Linked DNA regions of Homo sapiens: region 2 is linked to region 1. The links come from fine-mapping of genetic effects on gene expression. A gene starts in region 1. The other region holds a variant in brackets. All regions are shown on one strand. Distances are from middle to middle. Region 1 holds the start of REM2 (RRAD and GEM like GTPase 2). Region 2 holds the start of AJUBA (ajuba LIM protein).

Region 1 (15,715 bases):
CAGGAGTACAGGTCAGTGGGAGTGGGGCTGGCAGTAGAAGAGTAGACCCTGAGGGTGAGGCTGGGCTGTGCAGCTACAGGAGACCACGAAAGTGCCCACCTTGGGGAGAGGCTCCCATGATCAGCTTGTCAGTTGTGTCCTGTAAGGGACAGGTCCAGATCCTGAAAGCAGTTTCAAGGGAGGAGGGACCTCAGATGACCTTTGGGAAAGCCATGGCACAGCTCCAGCTGGCCTGGCCCGGGTGTGGAAGTGGGAGGACTGTCCAGGCTGAGGTGGTCTACTCTGGCCGAGAACTACCAGTGACTGAGCAGTCCTCATTCCTTCTAGCATCTTTGCCCCCCTCTCCCGGATGGAGGCTGAGATTGTGCAGCAGCAGGCACCCCCTTCCTACGGGCAGCTCATTGCCCAGGGTGCCATCCCACCTGTAGAAGACTTTCCTACAGAGAATCCTAATGATGTAAGTCACTCCCCACAACCCTAGCACCTCCTGGTCCCAGTTCTGCTGTGGCCCCGCCCCTGTACCCTCCTTCATTCAGCCTTTGGCCCTCTGACTCTGAGGCCTCCTCATTTCCTTGCAGAACTCAGTGCTGGGCAACCTGCGTTCTCTGCTACAGATCTTACGCCAGGATATGACTCCAGGAGGTGGCCCAGGTGCCCGCCGTCGTCAGCGGGGCCGCTTGATGCGACGCCTGGTACGCCGTCTCCGCCGCTGGGGCTTGCTCCCTCGAACCAACACCCCGGCTCGGGCCTCTGAGGCCAGATCCCAGGTCACACCTTCTGCTGCTCCCCTTGAGGCCCTAGATGGTGGCACAGGTCCAGCCCGTGAGGGCGGGGCAGTGGGTGGGCAAGATGGGGAGCAGGCACCCCCACTGCCCATCAAGGCTCCCCTCCCATCTGCTAGCACGTCTCCAGCCCCCACTACTGTCCCTGAAGCCCCAGGGCCACTGCCCTCACTGCCCCTAGAGCCATCACTATTGTCTGGAGTGGTGCAGGCCCTGCGAGGCCGCCTGTTGCCCAGCCTGGGGCCCCCAGGACCAACCCGGAGCCCCCCTGGACCCCACACAGCAGTCCTGGCCCTGGAAGATGAGGACGATGTGCTACTGGTGCCACTGGCTGAGCCGGGGGTGTGGGTAGCTGAGGCAGAGGATGAGCCACTGCTTACCTGAGGGGACCTGGGGGCTCTACTGAGGCCTCTCCCCTGGGGGCTCTACTCATAGTGGCACAACCTTTTAGAGGTGGGTCAGCCTCCCCTCCACCACTTCCTTCCCTGTCCCTGGATTTCAGGGACTTGGTGGGCCTCCCGTTGACCCTATGTAGCTGCTATAAAGTTAAGTGTCCCTCAGGCAGGGAGAGGGCTCACAGAGTCTCCTCTGTACGTGGCCATGGCCAGACACCCCAGTCCCTTCACCACCACCTGCTCCCCACGCCACCACCATTTGGGTGGCTGTTTTTAAAAAGTAAAGTTCTTAGAGGATCATAGGTCTGGACACTCCATCCTTGCCAAACCTCTACCCAAAAGTGGCCTTAAGCACCGGAATGCCAATTAACTAGAGACCCTCCAGCCCCCAAGGGGAGGATTTGGGCAGAACCTGAGGTTTTGCCATCCACAATCCCTCCTACAGGGCCTGGCTCACAAAAAGAGTGCAACAAATGCTTCTATTCCATAGCTACGGCATTGCTCAGTAAGTTGAGGTCAAAAATAAAGGAATCATACATCTCAAAATTTTGCAAATTAGCTGCGAGCCTGAGCCCCGCCTCTGCCCATCTCAGTCTATGCTCACCTCATCCCACTCCTCCCTGTGGAGCCCTTTGCTTGGCCCTCTACCTCCTGCCCTCTTCCTGTTCATCTCCCAACCACTGCACTCTTGATTTTTATACCACACAGAAGGTAAGAAAATTCTAGGAACCCTAAGGATCAATCCTCTCCATTTTCACTCAAATGCCTGGGGCCCAGCTCTGCAATGACTGACTCCAGGGCCTCTTTCCTCACTGCCAGCATAGAAGTCAGGGGAGCCAGCTGGGCCCTGCGGTCAGGAAGGTTCTCATTTTTGGAGCATACCCTGAGCCCAGATCATAGGAGCAGCTGTCCCTGGTGGGACACAGGAGTCATGACTCCTACCCTCCACCCTCCACACCCACCAGGCATTTAGCAGTCTGTCCTATGCAAGACAGATGAATTCTCAGCCAGGATACCTCAAGGCAGGCAAAGGTGAGTGGAGGGAGAATTCACAAACATTCAGGGTGTGTGGTGCTGGCATCACCATGGCCAAATCCAAGAGGTCTTCCTGGAAGAGGGCCCAAACTGGAACCAAAAGAATGCTGTCAGCAGTTGGAATAGAGCTGTGAATTCTAGACAGGGGGAGTGTCCCCAGAACAAGCAAACGGAGGAGACAAGAGGGCAAGGGTTATAGGAAAGACCCTGGGCCTGAGAGCACAAGCAGCGGCCAGAGCTGCAGCGCTGGGGTGGGTGATGGAGGGAATGATTCGCAAGCAGTGTTGGAACCCAGCCCCTAGTGAGCAAAGTGACAGAAGCTGCCCCAGAGTTTGGAAGGAAGATCGAGGCAGAAGATGTAGAAGGAAGCTGTGGGGGTGGGAGTGATGCCTCAGGAACAAAACTGAGGAATTCCCTAACGGACCCAGTCCCTGGGGAAAGAGGCTCCCCTCAGGCTCTCCTTGTCTAGCCCCACACCTGGCAGAGCCTGTCACCCAGCCTAGCCCCACGCCTGGCAGAGCCCATCACCCAGCCTAGCCCCACACCTGGTGGAGAGGCCCTGTTGATTACACCCTGTCAGCCTCCTCAAACCCAGCACTAATTGCACAATTTTCCTCTCTTCTAGTGAGCAAGAGCCTGAGGAAGTAGCAGAGAGGGGTGTGGGCCCATGTGCAGTTCTGGGACCCTGGCACCTTGGCTCAGGGAAGACCCGAGCTCCTTTCACTGCAGACCCTCTCCAGAGACTGGGGAGAGGGCTCTGGAGAACCTGGTTCTTGCTTACTGTTCTCCCTTTGGGCCCTCCTTCCCAAACGCAAACAATCCAGGATCCACTCAGCGTCAGGCCCAATGGAAATAGTGAAGCAGTGATTTTCCCTCCCCTGCCTCTCCATAGCCTGGTCTTTTGCCCTCTCCTTTGCTCTTCTCTTCCCCCATAGCCACCTCAAATACCTGCAGCCTGATATCTTCATCCCTTCATCCAGACCTTTTCTCTCCTAGTGGTATTGCAAACTGAAAGTGGACAAAGACTTAAGGTAAACCTGCTCCTCATGGTGGAATGCTTCCAAATGCTGGAAGGAGGACTTTAGGGCAGAGTTCACTAAGGAGGCTTGTGCTTATAGATCAGTGGGCCTGAAAGAAGTTTCTCTAGGTTCTGGTTGTGTGCTGTACGAGGTGTAGGTAGTAATAATACTCTTGTCAGCCACAGTGAAGCCCCAAGCTAGCCGGGATAGGGGACTGACCTTGTACAGGCAGCATGGAGAAACTAAGACAGAGTGTCCTGCCCAAGTGATGGCACTGGGGAGCAGTCACTCAGGTTTATTTCCACCAGGGCCCAAGAAAAAAAGAAATGAGGCAACCTAAAATTCCATCAAGATAGATACCAATATCCAAGGTGCTTGGTCTTAGCGGTGTGGGACCCACGTTAAGGCTCTTGGTGGGAAGGTGGGAGGTGTTTTCAGCATGAGATAGGGTTCAGGCTGTGAATCAGAGTCTAGAGCCTAAGATAAAAGAAGATACCAGGGCTGGGCCACGGTGGCTTTCGCCTGTAATCCTAGCACTTTGGGAGGCCAAGGCAGGCAGACTGCCTGAGCTCAGGAGTTCGAGACTAGCCTGAGCAACACGGTGAAACCCTGTCTCTACTAAAATACAAAAAAGTAGCCAGGTGTGGCGGCATGCACCTGTAGTCCCAGCTACTCGAGAGGCTGAGGCAGGAGAATTGCTTGAACCCGGGAGGCGGAGGTTGCAGTGAGTGGAGATCGCGCCACTGCACTCTAGCCTGGGTGACAGAGCGAGACTCCTTCTCCAAAAAAAAAGAAAAGAAGATACCAGAACTCAGTCCTTAAGAAACAAAATTCTGCCAGGCGCAGTAGCTCACACCTGTAATCCCAGCACTTTGGAGGGGCCAAGGCAGGCGGATCGCTTGAGGCCAAGAGTTCAAGAACAGCCTGGGCAACATGATGAAACCCTGTCTCTACCAAAAATACTAAAAATTAGCCAGTCTCACAACCTGGTCTCAAAATAAATAAATAGATTTAAAAAAAAAATCATGGGCCTGAACCAAGCTCCAGACCTCACTAGGAGGGGAGAAGGACCCCCCAGCCACACAGCCCAAGGCTGCAGAAGCACCTAGGTGGTTAGAGAGTGAGTGCCTGGATGGGGCGCAGTGGCTCACACCTGTAATCCCAGCACTTTGGGAGGCCGAGGCAGGCGGATCACGAGGTCAAGAGATCAAGACCATCCTGGCCAACATGGTGACACCGTGTCTCTACTAAAAATACAAAAATAAGCTGGGCATGGTGGTGCGTGCCTGTAGTCCCATCTACTCGGGAGGCTGAAGCAGGAGAATCACTTGAACCTGGGAGGCAAAGGTTGCAGTGAGCTGAGATCGCGCCACTGCACTCCAGCCTGGCAACAGAGCGAGACAAGACTCCATCTCAAAAAAAAAAGTGAGTGCCCGATGATGCCAGATTCTTCATCACCTGAAGTGAACCCACACAACAGGGCTGGGCCATGGGCATCATAAACCCCATTTTGCAAGCTCAGGAGGAGCTTTAGGGAAATCAGAAGACTGGCCCAGTCTCTACCAAGTGGTGGATTTAGAGCCGGCATGGCTTCGTTCCAAATCTCACCCTTGTCCCACCATTCCATGGGACCTCCCATTCCTGAGGGAGCCTGGATACGGGCAAGTGCACAACCCGGGAGGTTGAGGTTACAGTGAGCCATGATCGCACCACTGCAGTCCAGCCCGAGCAATAGGGTGAGACCCTCCCTCTGAAAAAAATAAAAATACTCATTTTGGAAGGAAGTCATTCTAAAATGTTACACTTGTCTTCAGCATATCTGCAATATAATAATTTTCTGCATAACTGAGGATCATTCACAGAAACCAATGGCTTTTCTCCAGCAGTGTCTTCTGAAGTTGTAACAGTAGGGGCACGGGGAGCTATTTGCTTTTATGCTAAATGACCTTAGACCACTTATAAAATGCATATGAGTGCTTTAAATGTTATTTTGTGTGTGTGTGGTGTTGCCTCCCTGACTACAAGGGGTCACTTGCTACTCTAAATGTGTTTCTAATCTACTAGTACAGGAACACACATGGACACGTTAAAATTGTGAATAAAAGTAAGTAAAAAGTAAAAGTAAGTAGGCCATGACTGAGGACTGGAGAATCTACCCAGTGAGTAAAGCACAGGAGTATTTTAGCAGCTGAGGGGTCCTTTCTGCTCCCTCAAACCCTGCACTGTTGCCCTATAGCTGACCTCCAAATAAGTGAAGTGTCACTGCACATTGTTCCCAAGATTATTCTTTGCCTCTTCCATTGGAAGAGTCCACTGAGGATAGCAATATAGACTGTTCCCAATAATAGGAGACAGTTGGAATATTTAAGAGAAGGAAAGCTGCACAATGTAGAAATGAAAAATCCTTGGCACTGGAAAGATGTGGGTGGGATTCCTGGTGTTCCCATTTTCCAGCTGCAAGATTGCTTTAGGGACGGGGCACCCACCTACCACTGTGGGCCTTGGGCTCAAGAAGATGAAAGGAGATAATGCAAGAAAGTACTTAGCACAGCATCTGGCAAAAACGGGGCAAGGAAAGGAAATCGGAACGTGTGTCTGGGAGCTTAAGGGTGTCAGGAAGGAGGACAAGAAGGAAAGGGGCAGGAGAAGGAACCTGAAGGGAAAGGGAACTGGGCAGAAAAAGAACGGTAAAAGAGATGTGCTATCTGGGCTTCCTACAAACAGGCAGACATCACCCATTGCGTACCTGCCTTGCATAGCCCAGAAGGCCTGGCAGCTGCACCAAAAAAACATTAACAGTGGGTAGGGGAGTTGGGGGGTAGCTGGCACTCCCCCTTCCCCACCCACTTAAGATTGGGAACCTCGTGTTTGAGATAGCTAGCTTTGTCTCACCCTTTTTTCCTGCTCTGATTATCGTTAGCTTGGTGGGCCTGGCAGGGAGAGAAGGTGGAAGAGTCTCCACAGTGGTTTGCCCCTACCTGAACTTAGTGGCAAAATGAAGCTGCCCAAATGAAGCAGCTGAATTTCCTTCCTCAGAGCCCGCATCTGCCTAGGGGCTGGGAAATGAGTACTTTCGTGGCTCTTAGCCCAGAAGAGGCAGGGTGGAGAAGGAAAAGGTGGCAGGGTGGCTGACCCTCAGTCCCCACACCTCTTTTGGCCTGCATCTCTTTGTCTTTCAGACCAGCTTTTAATCTTTCTGCCTCTTGCCCCTGTGCAGCCACTGAGCACGCTCTCTGGGCTAGACACTGGGCTAGGGGTCTGGAAATACAAAGACAAATGATGCGTAGTCCTGGCTGCTGGAGAAAGACCTTCACCTCCCCAGGTCCCTGCCTTCTGTCACCCTGAGCTCCCTTACCCACTGACACCCCCTGCAACCCTTGTCTGTTCTGCCCCTTGACTGTTCTGTCATAACTCAACCAAGCTCTGCAGTGTGTGTGCTCCCAGAGAGAAGCGACACAAAGAAAAGGGAGGGGGGGCAGAAAGGAGGGAATCCCGCTGACATCACTGCTCATTAGCATGTGTGACCTCATCAGGGGGTGGGACAATTTCCCCAGGTGTCTAGGGGGGAGGGCATGTGTGTGTGTCGGGGGGGGGGGTGGTATTTAAAGGGAAAAGCTGACAGTGCTGCTGAGTGAGGGAGAGGGTGCTGCGAGCTGCTGGGCTGCACACGCACACGCACACGCACACGCACACTGATGCACACGGACCTGGACACAGACATGGACATGGACACAGAAACCACAGCACTCTGCCCCTCTGGCAGCCGCCGGGCCTCCCCTCCAGGGACGCCCACACCAGGTGAGGGCTAACCTGGGCAGGTTCCGGCTGAAACCATGGGGGTGGGAGCTGAAGCTTTGGTGGGGAGGTCAGAACTAGGGGTTGAGGGAGCTTGAGCTCAGTCAGCAAGAGGAGAAGAGCAATTGAGAAAGTGGAGAAGACCCCTGCTCACACAAGGGATTGGGGCTGGGCTAGGGTGGAGGGGAAGAGCTGCCTAAATGCCCCCTCCCCCAGCACTCCCAGGGCTTTGCTTGAGAAACTGGTACATGGCCCCTAGCTCAGCCTCATTCCCGAGGCTGGAACAGGCAAGAAGGAAGGGGAGAGGAAAGGGGCAGCCCACAAGCCTGGGAATCACAGGCAGGGGCTACCCCGGGGAACTATTGTAAGGGTTCTTCTGGCTGCTGGAGGCCCTGGCTGCTGGCCAAGTATTGATCCTGGGCTATTTCCAGCCTCCCTCTAGCCCCCTTTGTTGTGTCTGTTGTTCCTCCTCCAGTTACCCTGACCCACGCATTGTCACTCTCCCTTTCGCTCACACACACACACACACACACACACTATCTCTCTCTCTCTACTTCTACTGCTCTATGAACACAATATTCTCTCCCACTCACAGGGACAGACAGGGATGCAGGATTCTCACATCCAACCACGCAATGAGGGATGCTCACCTACAGGGCCACGGGAAGCAGCAGCCCCTCTCTCTCTCTCACACACACACACAGAGAACCCACAGAGACCCAGCACGCACATCATCTCAAAAAGCAAAGGCCCTTTCCTAGGAAGAAGCTCACTACAAAGTTTTTTACTCTGCTATACCTACTCCCCAGACACTGGGCAGCAGTTTCAGCTTGTCATCCTCTCTGCTCCTCAGTTTGGGGATTACCAGTGCTGGAAACAGGAGGAGGAAGGGCCTCTTGATGGAAAAAGAGGCAGCTTCCCCAAACCTCCCCCAACTCCACCGTACAGGGCCAGAGGCCTAGTCTGGGGGTTTGCCTGTGTATCAGTGTAAAGTGTGAGTGGGTATGTGAGCCTGCATTCAGGTCCCTTCCCTGCATGGGGCACGTTTTGAATAGGTTGGGGTTGGGACCGCATTGGAGAAGCTATCATGTCAACTCCAGTTCAGGCTTCTGGAGACTTTAGTGTAAGAGGTCAGGCCAGACATTCTCAGTTCCTTCTGGGTAATGGTCATCAAGTGGGTGTAGCTGGGCCTCTGATACTGGAACAGCCTGGATTGAGCCTTCTGCATATGGTTGAGCATATCCCACTCATAGCTTCCTTTTCTTTGCCCTCCCATTTTATTTTAGAAGCAGATGCCACGCTACTAAAGAAGTCAGAGAAACTGTTGGCAGAGTTGGACCGGAGCGGGTTACCCTCTGCCCCTGGGGCCCCCAGACGAAGAGGCAGTATGCCTGTCCCCTACAAGCACCAGCTCCGGCGGGCCCAGGCTGTAGATGAACTTGACTGGCCACCTCAGGCCTCATCCTCTGGCTCGTCTGACTCCTTGGGCTCAGGGGAGGCAGCCCCTGCTCAAAAGGATGGCATCTTCAAGGTCATGCTAGTGGGGGAGAGCGGCGTGGGCAAGAGCACCCTAGCAGGCACTTTTGGTGGTCTCCAGGGAGACAGTGCTCACGAACCGGAGAACCCAGGTATTTGGGGAAGCCCTCCAGGGGTTGAGGGGGCTCTGGGGCCCTGGTCAGGGAAGGAAGTGCTCGTGACCTGAGCAGCCCCTGAAGGACAGAGCTTAACAGAAGCTTTTCCAATGCTTTCTGTGGCAGCCTCCCTGAAGAGGGGCAGGGTTCCCTGGTGCTGAGATCTGAGGTGTCCCTGGTTACCAGGTCTCACAAATGTTGGGAAACCTCCTAATGGACTTTATACCCTCTCCCTATTTCCCAGCAGAGGATACCTATGAGAGACGCATCATGGTGGATAAGGAGGAAGTGACTCTAGTCGTTTATGACATCTGGGAACAGGTGAGAACTAAGATGTGGCTGCAGGCAGGTGATGAAGCTGGGAGAACTGGGGAAGGGCAAAGTCTGGCTGAAGGCTGGTGGGACTGCTGGTCCTGGTTTCCACATGTACTGGAACCTGACCTTTCATTCATATCACCTCAGAAAGCAAAGACCCACACTACAGCCTGTGGCTGTTAAGACCCACAGTCTTTCCAGGATCTTCTGACTCAGAGCAAACTTAGGATGGGAATTTGACAAACCCTGCAGCTCCAAGCTAGGCTGGACACCCTGAAATTGACTCCATCCATAAATTTTTCAGCCTGAAGGAATCTGATGTGACAAGACAAGAGCTCAGGGATCTGGAATATCAGGGAAGGGGGAAAAAAGTGAGGACTTCTGAATATTTGGACATAAAGGTTACTATGTAGAAATAAGAGGCCAAATTACAGACGTGTGAATAATATTCATTTTTGAATCAAGAGCTTAAGAAATTAGGATGGCTACCCTAGTCTAGGATCCTCATATTACTAATTTCTTCCGCCTCCACAAACACTCTGGGTAGGGAGATTCTGCCATTAACTAGCTCTGCTGTCCTAAGCAGGTGGCTTCTTTCTGCCTCACAGCCCTGTTCCTCCTCTTTGAGGTGTAGGTGCTGGACAGGATCTCCTATGCCTCCAGCCCTAACGTTCCTCTGCCTGTCTGCAGGGGGATGCAGGAGGGTGGCTGCGGGACCACTGCCTTCAGACCGGGGACGCCTTTCTCATCGTCTTCTCAGTCACCGACCGACGGAGTTTCTCCAAAGTTCCAGAGACCCTACTTCGGCTCCGGGCTGGGAGGCCGCACCACGACCTACCCGTTATCCTCGTTGGAAACAAGAGCGACTTGGCCCGCTCCCGGGAGGTATCACTGGAGGGTGTGTATCCTGAACAGATTCCATACTTGCGATCTCAGGGGAATGCTCTCCCTTCCAAGTCACCTCTTCTCCCTAAGGCCTTTTTACCATCGCGGACGCACTCACTTGCAATCAGACCCAGGCTAGGGGGACACTCCCAATGCCCCACTCGAGGATCCTGAGAATCCCTTCTTGTCACTTCCCCTCACCTCTCTCCTAGGCCTCCTTCTCCCTCTCCTTCGCACCTCCACAGACCCACCATATGAGCTCAGCCATGTTCTCTCGGTTGCAAGATTCACTAGTACCAATCCCTTGCCACCGCACGCCCAGGCCCTCCCTAGACCCACCCTCGCCCCGGGTCCCGTACAGCCCAGCGGGCGCCTGAGCCGGTGCCTTCCTGCAGAGGGCCGCCACCTGGCCGGGACGCTGAGCTGCAAGCACATCGAGACGTCGGCCGCACTGCACCACAACACGAGGGAGCTCTTCGAGGGCGCGGTGCGCCAGATCCGGCTGCGGCGGGGCCGAAACCACGCCGGAGGCCAGAGGCCCGATCCGGGCAGCCCCGAGGGCCCTGCGCCACCTGCACGCCGCGAGAGCCTCACCAAGAAAGCCAAGAGGTTCCTCGCCAACCTGGTGCCGCGCAACGCCAAGTTCTTCAAGCAGCGCTCCAGGTCGTGTCACGACCTCTCGGTGCTCTGAGCCGCGGTCGCCATGGCCACTGCGGTCGCCATGGTCACCGCGCCCTCCGCTCGCCCCCCCTCGCCCCGCCCCGCCCCCGTCCGGCTTCCTTGGTGGAGGCCGTCTAGGAAACCAAAAACTCCCAGGATGCCCCGGTGTGACCGCCGGGGGCGGCCCGGGGCCGCTCGGCGGCACCTCCACACCCGCCCCAACGCGTTCTCTGGAGCTTTGGGCCTCAGGGCGCCTAGAAGGCGAGGACGCAGACCTGAAGGCGGCCGGTGAGCGGGGCGGGTTCTGCTGGGTCGGGAAGAAAAATAATTCTGCAAGGTATTTTGTTTTTTATTAATTCGCGCTTGGCCACCTCATCTGTAAAGAGATTCTAAAAGCAAGATCTGGAAAAGTGCTTCGTAGACTCCTTGACGGAGTTTGCCTCCTTTGTACGCTGCGTGAACATGCCTCACCTTTAAGAGAGTCTTAAAGGTAAAGACACGAAAACACTTCCTCCAGGGACCTTCCCGAAAACGTTCTGGCTCTCATCTGGTGCGGCATGTGTCCACTTTGCCTTTAAGGAGTTCTTAAAGGCAAGGGCCTGGAAGTGCTGTTCCTGAGATGGATTCTCTTGACTTACCAGTCCACCACGGCACTTCCCCTTTAAGGTTATTAAAGGTAAGGGGTGGACAGACTTTCTGCATTCAGATAATGAGCAGTGGCAACCCCTTTTGGCCAGGGCCAGGGGGGCACCAGCAAGGGGCCACCCTTTCCCTTTTCAATAAATAATTTTTGTACTGCCTCTGTTCACTTTTGACTCTGTTCTTGGAGTCTTTGGGGAAGGAATGGGTGTTGATGGAAACTGCTGTTACCCACCAGAAAACTCAGGCCCAGAGGAGCAAGGAACCTAACTCTCTAAGGAGGCTCTGGAACTGACTTGGCCTGGGGTAGTCCATGTCATAGGGCCACAGGCCCTTACAGATAATCAGGTCCACTTCTTGCGTTTGCCGATGAGAAAACAGGCTTGGAGAGGAACAGGGACCTCCTAGAAGTCATTTGTAAATTAGTGACACAGTGGGACCAAATCTCTAGATTCTGAGCCTCATCTCCTTACCCCCACTCTATCCTGCAGGGAACAGGCTAGAGGCTACACTTAGCTCCCAGCGGTACTCAGCTTTGACTTGGGCTGGTTCAAAGTGGGGCCCATATCCACCAGGGAAGCCCATCAGCTGTGGCGTGATGGGGGTCTGTCTGTGCCTCCTCTGGCAGGGCTCCACAGCCCCAGCTGTCACCTGCAAAGCCCGTGTGAGTACTGAAACTGTCACTGCCTCCCCTGGGGACGCCCACGCCTGCTGCTGCCTGAGCCATGAGTTTGAACAAAGGGAGCAGAGGCAGCAGCTCCCCTCACCACCCCTAGACATACAATACAGCTACCTGAGCACCTGAGGGCCAGCCTCCATTCTACCCCACACAGCCTCCCAGAACTTGATGGAAAGAGGGTTGCAATGCTTCCTGAGTCCTTGTAGCTGGGGAGGAGCCAAGGGGACCATCCCAGCATGGGTACTTATAATAAGATGAATAATGGCCCTATCCTTAGGACTTTATACACTTTATCTGTTAATTCCTTAAAGACTATATAAGGTCCAGCCTGGGAAACATAGTGAGAGCCAGTTTCTACAAAAAAAAATATAAAAATTGGCCAGGCATGTGGCTCACACCTGTAATCCCAGCACTTTGGGAGGCTGAGGCAGGAGGATCATTTCAGTTCAGAAGTTTGAAACCAGCCTGGGCAACATGGCAAAACCCTGTCTTTACAAAAAATTAGCTGGGTGTGGTGTCATTCAGATAGTCCCAGCTACTTGAGAGGCTGAGCTGGGAGGAACCCTTGAGCCAGGAAGTTAAGGCTGCAGTGAGCTGTGATTGTACCACTGCACTGCAGCACGGGCAACAGAGCAAGACCCTGTCAAAAAAAAAAAAAAAAAAAAAAAAAAAAAAAGCAGTGCACCTGTAGTCCTAGCTACTCAGGAAGTGGGAGGATTACTTGAGCCCAGGAGTTCAAGGCTGAAGTGAGCTGCAATCACTGCCTTCCAGCCTGGGTGATAGAACGAGAACTTGTCTCTTTAAAAAAAAAAAAAAAAGGGCCGGGCGCCATGGCTCACACCTGTAATCCCAGCACTTTGGGAGGCCAAGGTGGGTGGATCACAAGGTCAGGAGTTCGAGACCAAGCTGGCCAATATGGTGAAACCCCATCTCTACTAAAAAGTGCAAAAATTAGCTGGGCGTGGTGGCAGGCGCCTGTAATCCCAGCTACTAGGGAGGCTGAGGCAGGAAAATAGCTTGAACCCAGAAGGCAGAGGTTGCAGTGAGCTGAGAACGTGCCACTGCACTCCAGCCTGGGCGACAGAGTGAGACTCCATCTCAAAAAACAAACAAGCAAAAAAAAAAAACCTATATAAGGTGTTACTACCTGTTTAACAGTAGAAGAAACAGAGTGTAAGTAACTTGCCTGAGGTTACCCGGTAAGCAGTAGAGTTGGGATTTCATGTCTGCTTGATACTTTTTTTTTTTTTTTGAGATGGAGTCTTGCTCTTGTCACGCAGGCTGGAGTGCAATGGTGCGATCTCCACTCACTGCAACCTCCACCCCCCGGGTTCAAGTGATTCTTCTGCCTCAGCCTCCCGAGTAGCTGGGATTACAGGCACCCACCACCACGCCCAGCTAATTTTTTGTATTTTTAGTAGAGATGGAGTTTCACCATGTTGACCAGACTGGTCTTGAACTGCTGACTTCAGGTGATCCACCCACCTCAGCCTTCCAAAGTGCTGGGATTATAGGCGTGAGCCACCGCGCCCAGCTCTGCTTGATACTTAATGATGATTTTATCCAGCTTTGCATCTGAGGCTCCCTTTCCAATAAGGATGGGAGGAAGAGAAAGAGGGGACAGCAGTCAAGATGCGGGGACACAATGGGCAGGGCCATGTGCAGTGGCTGTGGTGAAAGGTCCAGAGAAATTACATGGCTGTAGTGGAGTAAGCAAGTTCTAAATTCTGAAGACCATGAACAGAGGCAGCTCAAATTTTAAAACACAGGAAAACACACTGGGCCCATTAAGGGACCAGATGGCTGTACAGTTGGGTTGAAACCTCAGGGACATGAAGAGGAGGGGTAAGAGATGAGCATGGAAAAGAAGGTTTGGAGTCCCACTGTAAAGGACCTTAAATGCCAGGAAAAAGAGTTTGTGCCCAACTCTGTAGGCAGGGAGAGTCACTGCAGGTATCTGAATGTGGAAGTCATGATTAGGATGGTCTTTTGGGAAGAGGAGGCTGGGAGAGGTGTGTATGGATTGGAGCTGCAGAGGCAAGTACTGAGGAGCTGAGTTTAGGGACCAGTTAATAGTGATACATACAGAGGATAATGAAAGGCCATCCTGAGGGGGGTGGCAGTGGGAAAGGAAGGAGGCATGGGTTTGAGCATCAGAATCAATGGGACTTGGCAACTTAGTGGATGAGTATAAAGAGAGGAAAAAGTTGTAGGTGGTGAGAGGATGGTGCAGAACTTGGAGTAAAGGGGCAGAGGAGGTAGTGAGAGTAAGGAGCTCCATTTTGGAGACACTGAATTTGAGATGCTAGAAGAACATCTATATAGAGTTTCAGCAGCTCTCTAGAGTTGAATCTGAATCTGAAATTCAGAACAAGTTGGGACAAGAGAAACAGATTTGAGAATAATTACCATAAAGATAGTAGTAGAAGAGCAAGGAGAAAAGGTGACCTGTGCAGTCACATAGGGCCCTAAGCTTAGTTTAATGTTCTGCTGTTATGTTCTTAAAATTCTTCGAACAAGGAGCCCTGTATTTTCATTTTGCAAGGGGATCCACAATTATACTAAGGGAGAAGGTGCAGTACAGGCTGGGATCCTTACCCCAGACTACTGATGGAGTCTGCGTCTTGTGAAATGGTACATACAATCTGATGTATTTGTGTAGTCATACCTGTGTCTGAGAATAGGGTTCATGAATTTCATCAGATTCACAAAAGGGTTTGTTACAGGCCAGGCACAGGATGGCTCATGCCTGTAATCCCAGCACTTTGAGAGGCCGAGGCGGGTAGATCACCTGAGGTCAGGAGTTCGAGACCAGCCTGGCCAACATGACGAAACCCCATCTCTACTAAAAATACAAAAATTAGCTGGGCATGGTGGCACATGCCTGTAATCCCAGCTACTTGGGAGGCTGAGGCAGGAGAATTGTTTGAACCCAGGAGGTGGAGGTTGCAGTGAGCCGAGATCGTGCCACTGTACTCCAGCCTGGGCAACAGAGTGAGATTCTGTCAAAAAAAAAAAAAAAAAAAAAAAAGATGGTACTGGCTGCTTCTGGAAAGGGGAACTGGGTGAGTAGAAGACCAGGATGGGAAGCTGACTTTTCATTGTATGCCCTTTTTCTTTTCTTTTCTTTTCTTTTTTGAGACGGAGTTTCACTCTTGTTGCCCAGGCTGGAGTGCAATGGCACGATCTCACTGTAACCTCCGCCTCCTGGGTTCAAGCGATTCTCCTGCCTCAGCCTCCCGAGTAGCTGGGATTACAGGCATGTGCCACCACACCCGGCCACTTTTGTATTTTTGGTAGAGATGGGGTTTCTCCATGTTGGTCAGGCTGGTCTCAAACTCCCAACCTCAGGTGATCCGCCTGCCTCAGCCTCCCAAAGTGCTGAGATTACAGGCCTGAGCCACCGCGTCCAGCCTGTATGCCCTTTTTCTACCTTTGGAAATTTTTTTTTTTTTTTTTGAGACAGAGTCTTGCTCTGTTGCCCAGGCTGGAGTGCAGTGTGGCACAATCTCAGCTCACTGCAAACTCCACCTCCTGGGTTCAAGCGATTCTCCTGCCTCAGTCTCCCGAGTAGCTGGGATTACAGGTGCCCACCACCACGCCCAGCTAATTTTTGTATTTTTAGTAGAGACGGGGGTTTCACCATCTTGGCCAGGCTAGTCTTGAACTCCTGACCTCATGATCCACCCACCTCAGCCTCCCAAAGTGCTGGGATTACAGGCGTGAGCCACCGCGCCTGGCCTACCTTTGGAACTTTTAACTGTGTCATTTAGTACCACTTCAAAAATGAAACGAAATAGGCCGGGCACAGTGGTTCACGCCTGTAATCCCAGCACTTTGGGAGGCCAAGGCCGGTGGATCATGAGGTCAGGAGTTCAAG
Region 2 (15,715 bases), 99 kb after region 1:
TCGTAAAATGGAGGCGGAGACCCTGAAAAGTGCCTGAGAGAGCATTCAGGCCAGCAGTGTTTCACTCTGGCTGCATATCAGGATCACCTAGGCAGCTTTTAAAAAACATCAATGCTTTGGCCCTCCTCCAGGCCTATTATCACAATCTGTGGTGATGGGATCCAAACACTGTTTTTTGTTTTGTTTTGTTTTTTAGTTCTTCCCAGCTGATCTGCTAGGCTACCATGATTGAGAATCACTGATTTAATCCTATCTTTTGTTTTTACAGAAAAGAAAACTGAGTCCCAAGTGATTCTAACCAGTAGCAGAAAGGGGATTAAGACTCAGGACTGGCCGGGCGCGGCGGCTTACGCCTGTAATCCCAGCACTTTGGGAGGCCGAGGTGGGCGGATCACAAGGTCAGGAGATCGAGACCATACTGGCTAACACAGTGAAACCCCGTCTCTACTAAAAACACACCAAAAAATTAGCCGGGCATGTGGCGGGCGCCTGTAGTCCCAGCTAGGCAGGAGAATGGCGTGAACCAGGAGGCGGAGCTTGCAGTAAGCCGAGATCGCACCACTGGACTCCAGCCTGGGCAACAGAGTGAGACTCCATCTCAAAAAAAAAAAAAAGAAGACGACTCAGGACCCCAGGCTGGGCATGGTGGCTCACGCCTATAATCTAGCACTTTGGGAGGCTGAGGCAGGAGGATCACTTGAGGCCAGGAATTCGAGACCAGCCTGGCCAACATGGCAAAACCTTTTATCTACTAAACATACAAAAATTAGCCAGGCATGGTGGCGCATGCCTGTAGTCCTAGCTACTTGGGAGGCTGAGGCACTAGAATCACTTGAACCTGGGAGGCGGAGGTTGCAGTGAGCCGAGATCATTCCACTTTGTCAGAGCGAGACTCTGTCTCAAAAAAAAAAAAAAAAAAAAGACTCAGGACCCCACACTCCTAGCTCAGGCTGGAAGGCCTGGCTGTGCCTGCAGAGTTAGGGAGGGGCTAGGTCATAGAAGCCTGGGTTGACAGGCTTTTGAGCCCAGACTTGATCCCATAGGCAGAGGGAAGCCACTGTAAACAGTTGCTCTGGGGAGGAATGGGATGAAAGTGATTCATCTGGTGACAGGCTTCTTTCCCCAACCTTCTCTCAATATCCATTTAGTCCCTGATCCCGCTCCTCAGCCTCACAGTGAGACTTCTCAGCTGAAAGCACTTTACTTACCTTCTCCAAAATCAAGTGACCACAGACACAGCATTTCTCAGCTGCCTCCTGAAACCCTGAAAACTAAAGTAAAAGACAAGACGAACGGAGGCTGTTATCAAACTGAGAATGATGGGTGGTACTCCAATGGGCCACCAAGAAGGGGGTCAGTATGGAAACCAATTCCAGGTCCAGGTGACCCTTACTCACCAGATAATCTTCCTCACAGTACACAGAGCCATTGACACTGTAGAAAGCCTTGCAACGCAAAGTTCGCCCTAGAAACAATAGAGAAGGGGCTGGAACCTATCCCACAGCCCAGGTGCAAGACTTCTGGGGTCACTGCTCCCCGCTGCTGCATAATATATTTAAACCTGGACTTTGTGCTTTTCCTCCTAACTGCTGTCTGTCCTTCCCCGCACAAAAATTCCATCTGATGCAATTCCAATTTGCTTTGGCTTCATTCCAGCCAACTTCCCCTCTCCTCTGCTTGCTGCTCCTCCAGCTCCTGCCTCCTTAACAGTTTTCTAGGGCCCCTCCCCTAAACAAACTGCCTTCCTCTCCAGTGCATAGGAAGCCACCTGGGAGAGTAAAGCCAACTACGTGCTGGAATACGTGAGCTCTTAATAAGGTGCTATATGATTTGCATAGAGAGAACCACATTGTTAACAGGCCTTTCCCTCTGGGACCCTTCAACCTAGAAGCCTCTTTGCCTGAGCATATCTATCCTGCTCTCAAATGCCTGTCTCCTTCCAGGGACAGACTCCATGGAGGTCAGGACTGGAGTTACTGCAGAAGGACAAAGTGCTTTGTTTGGAAGCAAAGCAGGTCCCCTCTCCTGTTTGTATAAGGCTGCTTCCCTAAGCTTAGAGGGACCCAGAGTCACTGGGGTAAGAGACAACCCAGGATCTTCTTCCAGCAGACAAGGCAGGACAATTCCCCATGTGACCAACCCCCAGGAACTGCTCCCAGGTGTCTACATTATCAGGGATAGGGAAGGAGTGAGAACAGGTGGAGCATGAGCAATTTTCCCACCTTTGCCTTCTTCCCCTCAAAATCCCTACTTCCAACTCTGTCCAGTGGGTTAGGAAAGCTGACTTAGAAGCTCATGAGACACAGGGGAGGAAAGATAGGGAAAGAGATATAGCCAGAAGAGGCCCTGTAAACAGAAGGATAGACAGACAGATGAGCCTAAAGAGAACCAGGCAGAAACTGGGGGAGTGAGAAAAGCTGAGTGCTGAAGTCAGACAGGCAGAGATAGGAGATTAAAGGTTTAGCAAAGGAATCAGAATGGGTAAGCAGTAAGGAGGGGGTAATGAGGGAGGGGAGGGGGGCAGTTAAGGCCGCTGGGAGCATCCCCCCTTTCCAAGTGGGCCTCCTGAGCTAACAGTGGCAGGCATTCCTGGAGCGTGATGTCATCAGCTTGGCATGGCCCGGTGGCCTGCACTCCAGTGAGGTGGCTGAACTCTGACCAGCCAAGAGAAAACCCCCCTCTCCGCCCCAAACAGCTCCCCACTCCCCCAGCCTGCCCCCACCCTCCCCACATTCCAGTCTTTCACTGTCGCCCCAGGCAACTTGGCTGCCCAAGACCAAGCCCCACCAAGAAGCTGGAGGGCCAGGCAAGTCCAGGATGGGCAAGCAGGGAAGCACGAGAGGGAGAAACAGAGGTGAGGAAGGAAGGAGGGACTCCAGAAAGGGGACCCACCAGGCGGAGGGAGAGCCAAGTAGAGGACAGACAGGGAAGCAAGAGAGGCAGAGCAGCTGCGGACCTCCAGACACTTGGTGGGGATCCAACAGCTGCTCTGTGAGCAAATGAAGAGGCACAAGCTCTCCTCCTGTTCCCCATAGCACTTGTAAGTGTGTATGTGGGCAGGGGAGGGGAGTGCTTGAGTATTGGGGCTACACTCACCACAAGAGCAGCAAACAAAGCACTGGGTGTGGTAGAGGCTGTCCAGGGCCTGGCAGGCATTGCTCTGCCCATAGATGCCTTTGTTGCACTTGATACAGGTGCCTGAGAAGAGAAAAGTGTCACACTCTACTCCCCCAGGTCAAAACCAGGGATTCCCAAGCTTTCCTGACTGCCCTTTCCTGATGTGCCAGGGGTCACAGTCTCCCTTTGATGGGCTCCCTTCTGAGTAGAGAAGATAACGAGTAATGAGATGCAGCAAGATCTTGGCTGAGCAGATCCATTCTTGTTTATTTAATTACTCAACAGATATTTTCTGAGCATCTGTTTTGTGCTTAACACAGCACCACTACCTAAGGAAACCTGGAGAAAGTCGAAGATATGGTCCCTGGCATTCAGATGCTTAGTTTCTGTTGGGGAGAAAAGACTACACAGGCAAGGTATGATCTCTGTTGCAGTGTGTAGGATGAACGGTCAAAGATGCCAGTCCACAGGTGCTCAGCAGCAGACTTGAAAATACTTTCTAGAGAAAGCAGGCTAGGCCCAGAAATCGTCTCTGGGACTTCAGTTTCCCATCAGTCAAACGAGCTGTTCAGTTATAGAATGATTTCTCTCCACTGCAGACTTCCAAGGATGGAGAAAAGGATCTGGCTTGGCAGAGGGCTCCGTGCAGAGGGGACCATGTGAGCATGATTCCTGTGGGGAGGTGGCTGCTGAGAATGCAGGGTGTGTTCCAGGAACCAGGGTTGAACAGGAAAGCAGGGAGAGTAGCAGAGCCCCTGATGCCTCCTAGTCACCTTCTATCATGGGAAGAATACAGAACTGAACTGCTTGCTATTCCCCAAAATCCCCCACTAAGATATATACACCTGGCTCTGGGACTTGCCTTTCCTGGGTGTGTTCTTCCCTCCCTCCACTCCCCAATTCCAGGCCCATGAGTGAGGGCTAGGGCCTGTCTTTGGGGAGCAGATCCCAACGGGCCTGCCCCACCTCTCCCCCTCGGCACGCTGCCACACTCCCTGCCTGTTGGGGCCCATCCCAGTCTTTGCCCAGGGGCTTGGGAGCCTGTGCAGCAGCTGCAGCAACTGATGGGCCCAGGCCTGTCCTGCTCCCACCCTCTGGCAGCTGGGCAAGGCTGAAGCCAAGGAAGAGGGCCCCTACTAGGGGCAGGAGGAGGGTACAGTCAAGCTGGGGCTAGCGGCACAAGGGGTATGTAGGGGTTCTGTCAAAGGAGGCAACCTGACTCCCAAGGAGAAGGGGCCCCCATCTCTGAATTCAAAATGTGGCTTCCTCATGGAAGTGAAGATCTGCCCCAAGATTGCCATGCCAGGGGGTCCTGTCGGAGCCATTCTTTAGGAAACCTTGGACGTTATGGGAAAAGCAAACGAAACTGCTCAGGCACGTTGGCCTCACCTCCTCTAACCCAGCATATCTATACCTATGTTCTTCCTGCCATTTTATTGCAGTTTCTCTGAGTTCCTTTCTTCCTTTTGGCTCTGATGGTTCAGCCAAAAAGACTTCTTTACTAGCCACCTCTCCTGGGCCTCAAAATGAAACTGCTAAATGGGCCCTGTCATTCAGTCTTCCTTGATCAAAGCGGTTTGGCATCATCTCCTCTGGGCTTTCCTCTCGGTGGATTTGGAGGTGGGGAAAAGAATGGGGGTGGAGGCTGGGGGTTGAGTTATGCCCTTATAGCCTGCCGCCCTGCTACCTCTGAACCTCCTACCCAACCATCCCTCCCTGGCCGCGTTCCTCTTCCTATTCACTTTTCTAGCCATAGAGTTCTACAGCATGGGGTCCAGGAGTGGGGCATGAGTGGTAAGAAGAGATGCTTAGAAAAGTGAAAGAGGCCCACAGCCCTTAGGCGGTAAGCCTGCCACTTCTTTCCAATCACAATCAGATTCGAAGTTTTTTATGTGTGTAGCAGTGCCTGTGAATTTTGACTAAAAGATCTTTCAAGACCCTAATGTTCCTCATAGCTGAGACATATAATCAATCAATACTTCCTGAACAGAGTAGGGGAGGGAGACAGCGACCAGGTTTCCTTAACAGTGTCAGGAAGTAAGGCGCTACTTCTGGCCTGAATTCTGAGAGGTTATAAGCAGAATTCAAGGCCAAGTTATTTCTGGCAATAACACAGGGTCGTTATCCATCCAGAGGTAATGGTGTCCCAGTAGTCATGACTTTTACCCTGACTTCCGGAGGATGGGGAAAATAGAAGCTGGTACTACTGGGTCTCTGATTAAATGCCCACGCACGCACCTAGCCAACAGGACTGGGGAGGGACAGCAGTTGGGTCCCAGGGCGCTCCATCCTGTCTCCCAGGCTCCATTTCCCCGACAGCCGCCACTACTCCGCGTATGCTAGGGAGCGTCCCCCGATCCCCGAACCCCACCCCTCCGCCGCGCGGCGGCAGCCGCCCCGCCCGCGGGCACCTGGAGCGCCCGGGCAGGAGTCGGCACGCACGCGGCCAGCCTGCCCCGCCCCCCCACCCGCGCATTCTCCGAATTCCTGCGGGCGGAGCCTGGGCCCGGGTGGGGGCGCGGCGCGCACAAACCTCCAGGGGCACCGCCGTGAAAGGGGGGAGCAAGTTGGGGGGGATGCGCCTTCACTGCCCCACTTGGTCCCTTCCCTACGAGGCCTCCTGCCGCAAAAAACCGAGGTTCAAATGCTTGAGAAACGGACTCACGAGATACCAGGGGGGTTGAATTTAGCAGAAATAAGGAGCCCTGGTTCATCTGAAAACTAGCAGGAAGGGGACAGTGCTCTGGGGCCGCCCCCATCCATCCCTCTTGCTTCTTTCCTAGTCCCGCGTCTTCACCTCGGACCCCGGGGCACCGGCACTTTGGGCCGTCGGGGCAGTGGAGAACCGAATACCGTGACGGGTCCCTTCCCGTCCCTAACCACTTCTCTCACTCACCGAAGTAGTCCTCCCTGGCCTCTGGCTCCCGCATCCGGGCCCGGGCGGCCTCCGGAACGAAAGGACCTGGTGGCTCCTCCAGACCCGACGGCTCAATCCCCGAGGGTTCTCCGCGGGCTCCGGCTTCTCGCCCACCGGTGCCCACCGTCAGGCGAAGCAAAGCTGTTAGCTCGTCCTGGTACCGGGCGCCCACGGCGCAGTCCCCGTAGCCGGTCACAGAGTGTCGTCCGGGTTGCGCCCCCCGTCTCTCCAAGGGCCCCGCCGCTCCCACTCCGGCCCCGGCTAGAGCTCCAGGGCTGCCCAGGGCCGGGGGATACGAGTGGCGGCTTTCCTGGCAGCCGAACCCCGCGGGCCGCTGAGCGTACAATCGGTCCAGGGCGGCGTGGAGCTCCGGGTAGGCGGACGGGACCCCTCCGGGAGAATAGCCTGCCGGTGCTCCGGCCAGGGGTGGGCCAAACAGGCACGGCCCCGCTGGCAAGGGGCTCCCGTGGCGCTGGTCGTAGCCCATGCTGATGCCGCTGGTGCGATTGCTGCAGGGCCGGCTACCTCCAGCTCCGCCAGCCCCCGCCCCGTCCAGCAGCAGGCTGCCCCGGGGGCTGGACGGCTTGCTCGCGTCGCTGGCCGAGCTACTGGCGAAGCTAGAGCGGGGGCTGAGGGCCGGGGCCGTGGGCTCCAGCCGAAAATCGGGGGGCAACGACTGAGGTAGAGGCAAGGCCCGGGTGGGCGGCGGCCCCGCGGGAAAAGAGCCTTCGTAGCGCGGCGCCTCAAAGGAGCCGCGCTGATTTCGCTCAGCGTCCAGGGAACCTTGCTCCCGGGCCGGCTCCAACGGCTCATCCCCAGGTCCCCCAGTAGCTCCTCGGGGCCCTGACTTCCTAGGTCCCCCCAACCCACTTAGGCGCCCCTTGCCCGGCCCGGGGGTCCCGTCAGACCCAGACCGGCTAGATTCACCCTTTCTGCGGCCGAACTTCTCCAGCAGGCGACTGGCTTTCTCTCCTAACCGCTCCATGCCCTCGGGCCTGGGGCCTCTCGCCCCCTCCCCGCCTGGCACCCTGCGGCGTCTCGGCGGCCGGTTCTCTTTCCCTGCAGCCGGACTCTGGTTCCCCAGGGGCACAGGGGAGGCACAGGGGCTTAGCGGGCGGCCTGGATGCCCTGCGCCAGGAATCCCACAGCATCCCCCAGCGGGAGGGGCTGCGTCCCCCCGCGCATCTGGGGCTGAGCGGGGCTAGCAGGGTCTCTGGCCGC[G/A]GCTGTCCAGTCCGCAGGTCTATCTGTTCACGCGTCGACTCGCCCGACTGCCCCACTCTCCCCGGCCCCCGCCCCCCTAGCTCTCACGCTAGCCACAGACCGAACTTCTCTCCCAAACTTTTGTCTGCCTGGCCGGATCTACTTTCCTAGGGGGGCGGAGCGCGGTGTGTGCGAGAGCGCCGGGGGTGTCCGCGCAGGGATAGCTGGTGTGCGTGCAGCGGAAGGCGCTAACTGCCCTGGATGTGGAGACCCGCGGACTGGACGTGAGAGGCGGGCAGGGGCAGTTGGGGCAGCTGCCCCTACAACACTGAAGAATTGGAATAGGAAAGAGTGTGGGGGTAGGGGACGGGGACTCTTTGTCTGCAGTTGGAATGCGCGGAGGGGCATGGTGGAATGTGTCGCGTCCCGGGACCGGACGACAGGAGGCATGTTCTGCGCTAGCACCGTGACTTTGTTCCCAGCGTGGGGACTGTGGGAGAGATGGAGAGAGACTGGTACAGAAATGGTGAGACAAGGAGAGAGCCATAAAGAGGAAGACAGAGAGAAAGAAGACAAATGCATAAAGAGGTTCAGAGACGTGTACGTAAAGATAGCCCTGAAAGGCGACGAAGCCCACAGAGAGAGGTGGAAGAGGGAAGAGGTAGCGAAAGAAAGGGAGAGCTGAGGAGCAAAGAGGAGTGTGGACGATGCAGAGACCGAAGGGTGCGCAGACAAAGGAAAGGACAAGCTTGTCCAGAGAGAATGAGAGACAAACAGATAAACTGCAATAAAAAGGCACCACCTTCTGGACCCAAAAGTTTTGTGATTTGTAAAAGCAGTGAAAAGGAGTCAGGAAAATGGGACTAATCTCTACTTTGAGAGGGAGGGAAAGAGATATAGTGTGTATGTAGAAGCAGTGAAAAGGAGTGAGGAAAAGGTTTGGGACTAATCTCTACCTTAAGGGTAGGACAGTTAGAGGGATAGACACCCCCTGGTGTTGGGAAATGAGATTTTTCTCATTTCAGGTGACTGTGGAGATCGAAGGCCTGGTTTTAGGGCTAGCGAACACCTTCTCCCTTTGGTTTTGGTCCACAGAAGACTGGTGATACAGAGTAAGTATTAAGAGGAAGAAAAGAAATGCCGTGTAGAGGAAATTGCAAATGAAAATGATCAGGATGGAAAAGAGGCTGATATTGACTATTTTAAAAGGATCAAGAATAAGGAAAAGAAACCCTGGCTGAAGCAGCCGGGCGCGGTGGCTCACGCCTGTAATCCCACCACTTTGGGAGGCTGAGGCGGGCGGATCACTTGAAGTCAAGAGTTCAGACCAGCCTGGCCAACATGGTGAAGCCCTATCTCTACTAAAAATACAAAAATTAGCCAGGCGTGGTGGCGCACGCCTATAGTCCCAGCCACTCGAGAGGCTGAGGCGGGAGAATCGCTTGAACCCGGGAGACAGAGGTTGCAGTGAGCCAATATCACGGCCACTGCACTCCAGCCTGGGCGACAGAGCAAGACTCCGTCTCAAAAAAATTCTCAAAAATAAATAATAATTTTTTTTAAAGAAACCCTAGATGAAGCTAAACATACCTAATTAAATACCAGCCAACGGCCGGGAGCGGTGGCTCACGCCTGTAATCCCAGCACTTTGGAAGGCAGAGGCGGCGGGATCACGAGGTCAGGAGTTTGCAACCAGCCTGGCCAGTATGGTGAAACCCCGTCTCTACTAAGAATACAAAAATTAGCCGGTGTGGTGGCGTGCACCTGTAGTCCCAGCTACTTGGGAGGCTGAGGCAGAAGAATCGCGTGAACCCAGGAGGCGGAGGTTGCAGAGAGCCGAGATTGTGCCATTGCACTCAGGCCTGGGCGATAGAGGGAGATTCCGTCTCAAAAAAATTTTTTAAAAACCAGCCAACTACTTTTGCCCAGACTAAAACATCAGGGGCAAGGGGTGGAGGAAGTAGAATGGAGAAGGAAAATGACTCCTTTGTATTTAGATAGTAAATGAGTATGAAAATTATATGCAAACAAGTCATGCATATTATTTTCATCTCAACATTTTGAACACCTTTTATAATCTTAGTGTAGCCTTAGGGAATGTGGAAAGAAACGAGGTTAATATCTTTTGGGAAATTAATTTGTGCCAAACTATTTGGCTTCTTCGTCCTAGTTGCATTGTCTCCCTGACCTCATCTCCCCTGAGAATCAGCCTCTGTTTCCCTGGTCAAGGCCACGGCTTTTCTCTGATCCTGAGGAGAGTTTCCTACCAGAGTGGAAGCAGGGAGGACTGAAAGCACTAGGAACAGAGGGGAGCTATCGGATTGCATCTAGAACCTGCTGTGAGCAACATCTTCAGAATTAACCATAATGTGTTCCCTCCTTTCCTGTGTCCAGATGAGGAAGGAGAACTTTGATTCTTCCTTCCAATTACATCCAAAATATCCACACAACTACTAATATTTGGAAGCTTTGATCCTTTGGGGTGAGGATGCGAGAGGAAATCTTATGAAATGTTGGGAGGCCATTAAAGGAGGCCCATGCAAGAGTTGGTGGTAGCAATGGGCACAACTGGGATGAACAGCCTGTGTTTTCAAGGGATAACTGGAAGCAGAGATGAGTGAAGGGGAAGAAGTAGAAGACGCATATGCTAATAGGGCATGCTCCAATAGTGCTCATGACCTCAGGTGGCCTCTCCACAGTCTAAACTGGAGCTGGGATCTCCAAAGGCCCTCTTCGTTCCCAAGACTTTAATTATAATCTGTATATGCAGGTGACTCCCTAATCCATATTTCCAGCCCAGTCTTTCTTGGAATTAAAAACTCAACTAACTACTAGCATCTCCAATGGCTGTCTCAGAAGCACCCAATATCCTAAACTGATCTCATCTTCTCTGCCTCATGAAACTGGCTCCTCTAACATTCTCTGAGTAAATGGCACAATCCTGTTAGCTGCTTAAACTAGAAATCTGAGCGTCAACCCTATGTCCTCCTTCTCCCTTAACCTCAAATCCAACCAAGTCCTATCAATCACCAAGTTCTATTAATTCTGCTTCCTAAACATCTTCCAAATCTGTCCTCCCCTCATCACCACTATATATGTCAAGTCACCGTCTTTCCTCTCCGAAACCAATGCAAAAGTCTCCTGGCCAAGGCTTGCTCCCTGCAATCCATCTTATACCCTGAGGTCAAGTGATTTTTTTCAGTACAGAAGCTTTACGACTTACAATGGAGTTATGTCTGAATAAACCCATCCATTATAAATTGAAAATATCGTAAGGCAGAAGTGCTTCTTCAACTTCACCATATTTTCAGCTTAAAATGGGTTTATCTGATATAACTGCATCATAAGGTGAGGAGCATACTGAATCATTTCGCACCATCGTAAAGTTGAAAAATCCTAAGTCGAACCATCGTTGAGTTGGGGACTGCCTGTAGGCAAAACCTGTCGTTTTATTTCCCTGCTAAAACAAACTTTCAATGATTTCTCACTGCCCTTGGGTTGAAGTCTGTACTCTGTATTATGAGGTCTGTCTCACTCTCCAGCCTCTCCTCTAGCATTATCCCTTCCCCAAAAGTCTGCAGTAGAACTGGACCTTGTCTGTACTCTCTCTTGCCCCTGGACTTTTGTACCTGCAGTTCCCTGTTTGGAACACTCTCTTAGCCTCCCCTTTCCTTCTGGTTAACTCTTCCCCAGTTTAGACATTACACCCTCTCAGAAGAAGCCTTTCCAGACTGCAAGAGTAGGTTAGCTACCCCTGCTGTATATTGCCATAGTGCACTACACTCCACCATGGTCACCCTTATCACAGTTCATTTCATTGCCTACTCCACTGCCTGGCTTCCTGACTAAACTAAAAAAATCTCTGAACAGCATCCAACCTTATCAACAATGTATCCATAGCACAGTACCTGACACCTAGTAAAGCGATCAATGTTTGTTATAAGACTGAATAAATGTAAAGCCATTTTTGCTTTTCAATCCATCCAAAATGCACACCCCTTCCTCAAAATACAGCTTGGCTGACAGGACCAAGAAACAGCTACAAAGCTGTGTATTTTGCTTGGTCACATAGTGAGAGAGAGGCTGCCGGTGAGACACGGGAACTCTTTAAGCCTTAATTTCCTCATCTGTAAGATAGGAATAGTAAAATTTTCCTCATGTAATTCAATAAACAATAGCTATTATATCAGGAACCCAATTCCCCAATAGTGATAGAACTTGTGTTCCCTTGGTCAGAAGACTCAAGCTCATGACTGAAACTGCCCACCAGGTGGCGGTATTAACCTGCACTGGTCATGTTCGGTTTCCACTGCAGAGCAAGACAAGTAGTCACAGGGAAGCAAAAGGTACAACCTGGGCTGCTTCCTCAGAGCTTTGGGTGGAACTGGGCAGGGGCAGAAACAACTCAGAGACAGGGCATATGTCAAGAAGGCCTCATGTTTCTTGGACCCATCCTCCTCATTTTCTCATCCCAGGCTTCTCCGAGATACTGTTTATGCTGAGGAATAAGCATATTCTGGCTTACTGTTCACAGTGGAGGGAGTTTCTCCCCTTCTAGATAAGTTTTTATCCCACCAGTGTTCTGCTTCCCCAGTAGAGACTGTGTTAAGAAAAGAGGCAAATTTGCTTTCTCAGACTGCACAGAGCATCTCATTATTTTGTGAAGCCCCATGGCCACCTATTTCTGAGACATGGGGCATGGCGGAAGCCAGAGTTATTCTTGGCTGTAGATTTTATTCATCCTTTTCCACCTTGATTTCAATGAATGAGTTCAAGTCAGGACAGCAGGTTTTGTGGGGTTGGTCAAAAGATGGGGAGCCAGGTGCATTCTCATCCCCTCCCTCATCTTCCTCTTCTTGGAAATTAGGATTGTAAAGTTCTGGTGGAAGGAGCTGGGCTTCAGCAGAAGGCAGTCTGTCTGAGGGAGGCCCATACACACGGTTGGCTTTGGTGCCATGCTTAGAGTTAGCATCCAGGTGGTAGCAGAGCTCTGTGAGGCGCTGGGCCCGGAAACGGGGAGGGCGGGCCACCCACACACCTGGCTCGTTAAGACTGTCCTCTTCATCTGACATCAGTTCCTCTGTCACATCATTCCACAGACGTTGGTCCTCAGGTCCAAAATGCCTCATGATACTGGATCGGTTGGCAAAAAGCTAAGGCAGGAACCCAGGAGATAGATTAGGAAGGTAAACATTCTATGGATTAGATTTGGGGAAAAGGTTTGGTGGGGAAGGCTGTGTAAAATCTGTGCCTAAGTGAACCCAGTCCCCAAGTCAGATCTTAGCATTGGCTCACTGTTCTTCTCTATCTTCCTACATTCCTGGCTCTCAACCCTATTCTCATATGCCATGTCCTCTGGCCCTTCCCACTTAGGAAAGGGTTTAGAGTTTAGTATCTTGAAAGAAAGGCCTAGAAACCTACCCGATATCGGCGACTTCGAAGTTTCTTCTCCTCTTTTTCCTTCAGGCCTTTAAAGGGGTTCAGGGAGTTGCGGTACTCACGCCTCTTAGTAAGGAAGTAGGCCACACAGGCTCCTGGCGGGGAGGGAAGGAAGGGAGCAAGAAGGAGGGTCCTCTGAGTAGTGGTCCCCAGCCCGTTTTTCTGCCCTAACACTATTGAATGGGAGGTTGGCGATCACTACTTAGATGAGGGCTTTTTTTTTTTTTTTTGAGATGTAGTTTCACTCTTGTTGCCCAGGCTGGAGTGCAATGGCACAATCTCGGCTTACCACAACCTCCGCCTCCTGGGTTCAAGCGATTCTCCTGCCTCAGCCTCCCGAGTAGCTGGGATTACAGGCATGTGCCACCACATCCAGCTCTTTTTAGTAGAGATGGGGTTTCTCCATGTTGGTCAGGCTGGTCTCAAACTACTGACCTCAGGTGATCCACCTGCCTTGGCCTCCCAAAGAGCTGGGATTACAGGCGTGAGCAGCCGTGCCTGGCCTAGATGCTGGGCTTTCTTGGCATAGGCATTAGCATCTTCACTCCTCTTTGGTTAGGATTCTTTTTATTTATTTATTTTATTATGATTTTGTTATGAGACAGGGTCTCGCTCTGTCACCCAGGCTTGAGGGCAGTGGCATGGTCATGCATGCTCACTGCAGCCTCCAACTCCTGGGCTTAAGTGATCGTCCAGCCTCAGCCTCCTGAGCAGCTGGGACTACAGGTGCACATCACCATGGCCGGCTAATTGGTTTAGCTTTCTTTGCCCACCTCCATCTCCAACACTAACTCCTCCCAAATATCTCCCACTGGAAAAAGACAACTCCAATCGCTTCTGTGTCTCCCCGCTCCCTCCACCAAATAAAACCTACCCCTTCTTGGGCGTGGTGGCTCACACCTGTAATCCCAACATTCTGGGAGGCCTCCTGCTGAGGCAGGAGGATTGCTTGAGCCCAGGAGTTTGAGACCAGCCTGGGCAACATAGTGAGACTCAGTCTCTATTTAAAAAAAAATTTAAAAACAACAACAATCTACCCCTATTGCCACTCTGATGGAAGATTACAAGTATTTTTTTATTTTTCGTTGAAACAAGGTTTGCCCACAGTGGAGTTCAGTGACACGATCTTGGCTCAATGCAACCTCCACCTCGCAGGCTCAAGCAATCCTCCCACCTCAGCCTCCCAAGTAGCTGGGACTACGTCATGCATGCCACCCCACCCAGTTAATTTTTGTTATTTTTGTTTGTTTTTGGTAAAGATTGGGTTTCGCCATGTTGCCCATGCTAGTCTCGAACTCCTGGACTGAAATAATCCTCCTGCCCTGGCTTCCCAAAGTGCTAGGATTACAGGGATGAGCCACGTTACCTGGCTCTACAAGTACTTTTTCAGCAGAAGCTTTCATAATACTTCAGGGTTAGCTACAAATAACAAAAGAGAGCAAGGAAAGAGAAAGCCTGGGAAATAATATTTAGGGACCAAGGGGCAGGCCTGGCTTCTGAACATAACACCTCCTCATAACACCTTAGATTCCTCCTCCTCGTAACACCTTAGGTGCAAGACCTGCATAAACAGAATGCATGATGCTGTTCTAGCCCTTTCCTTCTCTCATTTTCGTTTCAGACTGAGAGGGAAATAAACAGGCAATTTGAGATAATTCTATGAATATATTGAAGGTGAGAATAGCCAAAAAATGTTTCAAATCCACTATTTTCAAAACCACCTAATCATCTCTATTATTCCTCTTCTCCTCTGACCAAGAAAGAGGAGTGGGAGGAGAGGGGGAGAAAGGATGGCATAGGAGTTAAACCAGTTTTTCTCACCTTTTAGCTCCTTATCAGTGTAATTGTGGGGACTGGTCACCAGCTCTTGCTTGAGCTTTTCCAGAAGAAACTTCACTACTGAAATATTCCAAGAGGACTTGATGCTGCCACAAAGAGAAGAGAATGAATAAAGTTGTCGGCTTTGTAAGAGCCAGACAAACAGAGATACCCAGCACTAATCAACTTTGTGGCAAATCCCTCCACAGCCTAAGAAGGTATGGTGAGATCAAAGCCTTAGTCTCATTGCTGTATTGGAGCATCCCCCTCTACTTCCCTGTCCTTAGCAAAGTACCTTCTAATTCTTTTTCCTCAAGGAGACCATACCTTTCAGACCCATTGAATCTCTTGTCATTGGTGATGTGGTTATGCACATTGTGGACCAGTTTCTAGGAGGAAAAAAAGAAAACACAATCAAGCCAAGAGTGGATGTTATGAAAACTCTCCTCTGGTCCCTAGGGTAAAAAGGTATTGTCCCTAAGGGGCTCTCTGCCTGAATCCTTTCTAAGCCAAGAGCCTATCCAAGTTACTATTTCTAGTGTGGTCTTCCCTGACTTTTCATTTCATGTGTGTCAGGATTCCAGGATCATCCCTGGCCTTACTTCTGCTCCTGAGTAGTGTGATCACTGGAGCAGAGGGTCTCAAACATTTCCATGAACATACCCCTGATAGCAACGAGAAAGCAAGTATACACCAGGAGTACTGCGAGTGAACATTTCTTTTTTACTTTTCTTTCTTTTTTTTTTTTTGAGATGGAGTCTTGCTCTGTCGCCCAGGCTAGAGTGCAGTGGCGCGATCTCGGCTCACTGCAACCTCTGCCTCCCGGGTTCAAGCGATTCTCCCGCCTCAGCCTCTCGAGTAGCTCAGAGTACGGGCACCTGCCATCATGCCTGGCTAATTTTTGTATTTTTGTAGAGACGGGGTTTCACCATGTTGGCCAGGCTGGTCTTAAACTCCTGATCTCAGGTGATCTGCCCGCCTTGACCTTCCAAAGTGGTGGGATTACAGGCATGAGCCACCACGCCCAGCCAAGTGAACATTTCCTGAAGTCCCCTTCTCTTGCACTTTTTTTTCTTTCCTTTTCTTTTTTTTTTTTTTGAGACGGAGTCTCGTTATGTCGCCCAGGCTGGAGTGCAGTGGCACGATCTTGGCTCACTGCAAGCTCTGCCTCTCGGGTTCACGCCATTCTCCTCCCTCAGCTTCCTGAGTAGCTGGGACTACAGG

The links.
Region 2: its variant is fine-mapped to the expression of REM2 in whole blood (TOPMed, PIP 0.92).

The regions. Positions count from the first base shown.
Region 1 is chr14:22,876,362-22,892,076 of GRCh38, forward strand. REM2 (RRAD and GEM like GTPase 2) reads left to right here and starts at 6,861. Exons shown (of 5, transcript NM_173527.3): 1 at 6,861-7,029; 2 at 8,313-8,654; 3 at 8,905-8,978; 4 at 9,663-9,870; 5 at 10,253-11,317. The coding sequence starts at 6,927. The coding sequence ends at 10,548. It overlaps LRP10 (LDL receptor related protein 10), which reads left to right. Exons shown (of 7, transcript NM_014045.5): 5 at 1-11; 6 at 328-457; 7 at 579-5,352. The coding sequence ends at 1,166. RefSeq lists enhancers at 6,574-7,112, 7,113-7,650, 11,977-12,076 and silencers at 10,107-10,176, 10,417-10,746.
Region 2 is chr14:22,975,248-22,990,962 of GRCh38, forward strand. It overlaps AJUBA (ajuba LIM protein), which reads right to left and starts at 7,304. Exons shown (of 8, transcript NM_032876.6): 1 at 6,014-7,304; 2 at 3,097-3,198; 3 at 1,398-1,465; 4 at 1,209-1,271. The coding sequence starts at 7,019. C14orf93 (chromosome 14 open reading frame 93) reads right to left here. Exons shown (of 7, transcript NM_021944.4): 4 at 14,819-14,880; 5 at 14,495-14,598; 6 at 12,656-12,768; 7 at 10,647-12,387. The coding sequence ends at 11,968. AJUBA-DT (AJUBA divergent transcript) reads left to right here and starts at 9,077. Exons shown (of 3, transcript XR_007064074.1): 1 at 9,077-9,573; 2 at 14,502-14,959. LOC124903287 (a long non-coding RNA gene) reads left to right here and starts at 2,580. Exons shown (of 2, transcript XR_007064076.1): 1 at 2,580-2,854; 2 at 3,403-3,974. RefSeq lists enhancers at 1-151, 2,453-2,747, 6,353-7,318, 7,319-8,284 and a silencer at 11,484-11,593. The variant G/A (reference allele first, on the strand shown) is at 7,256.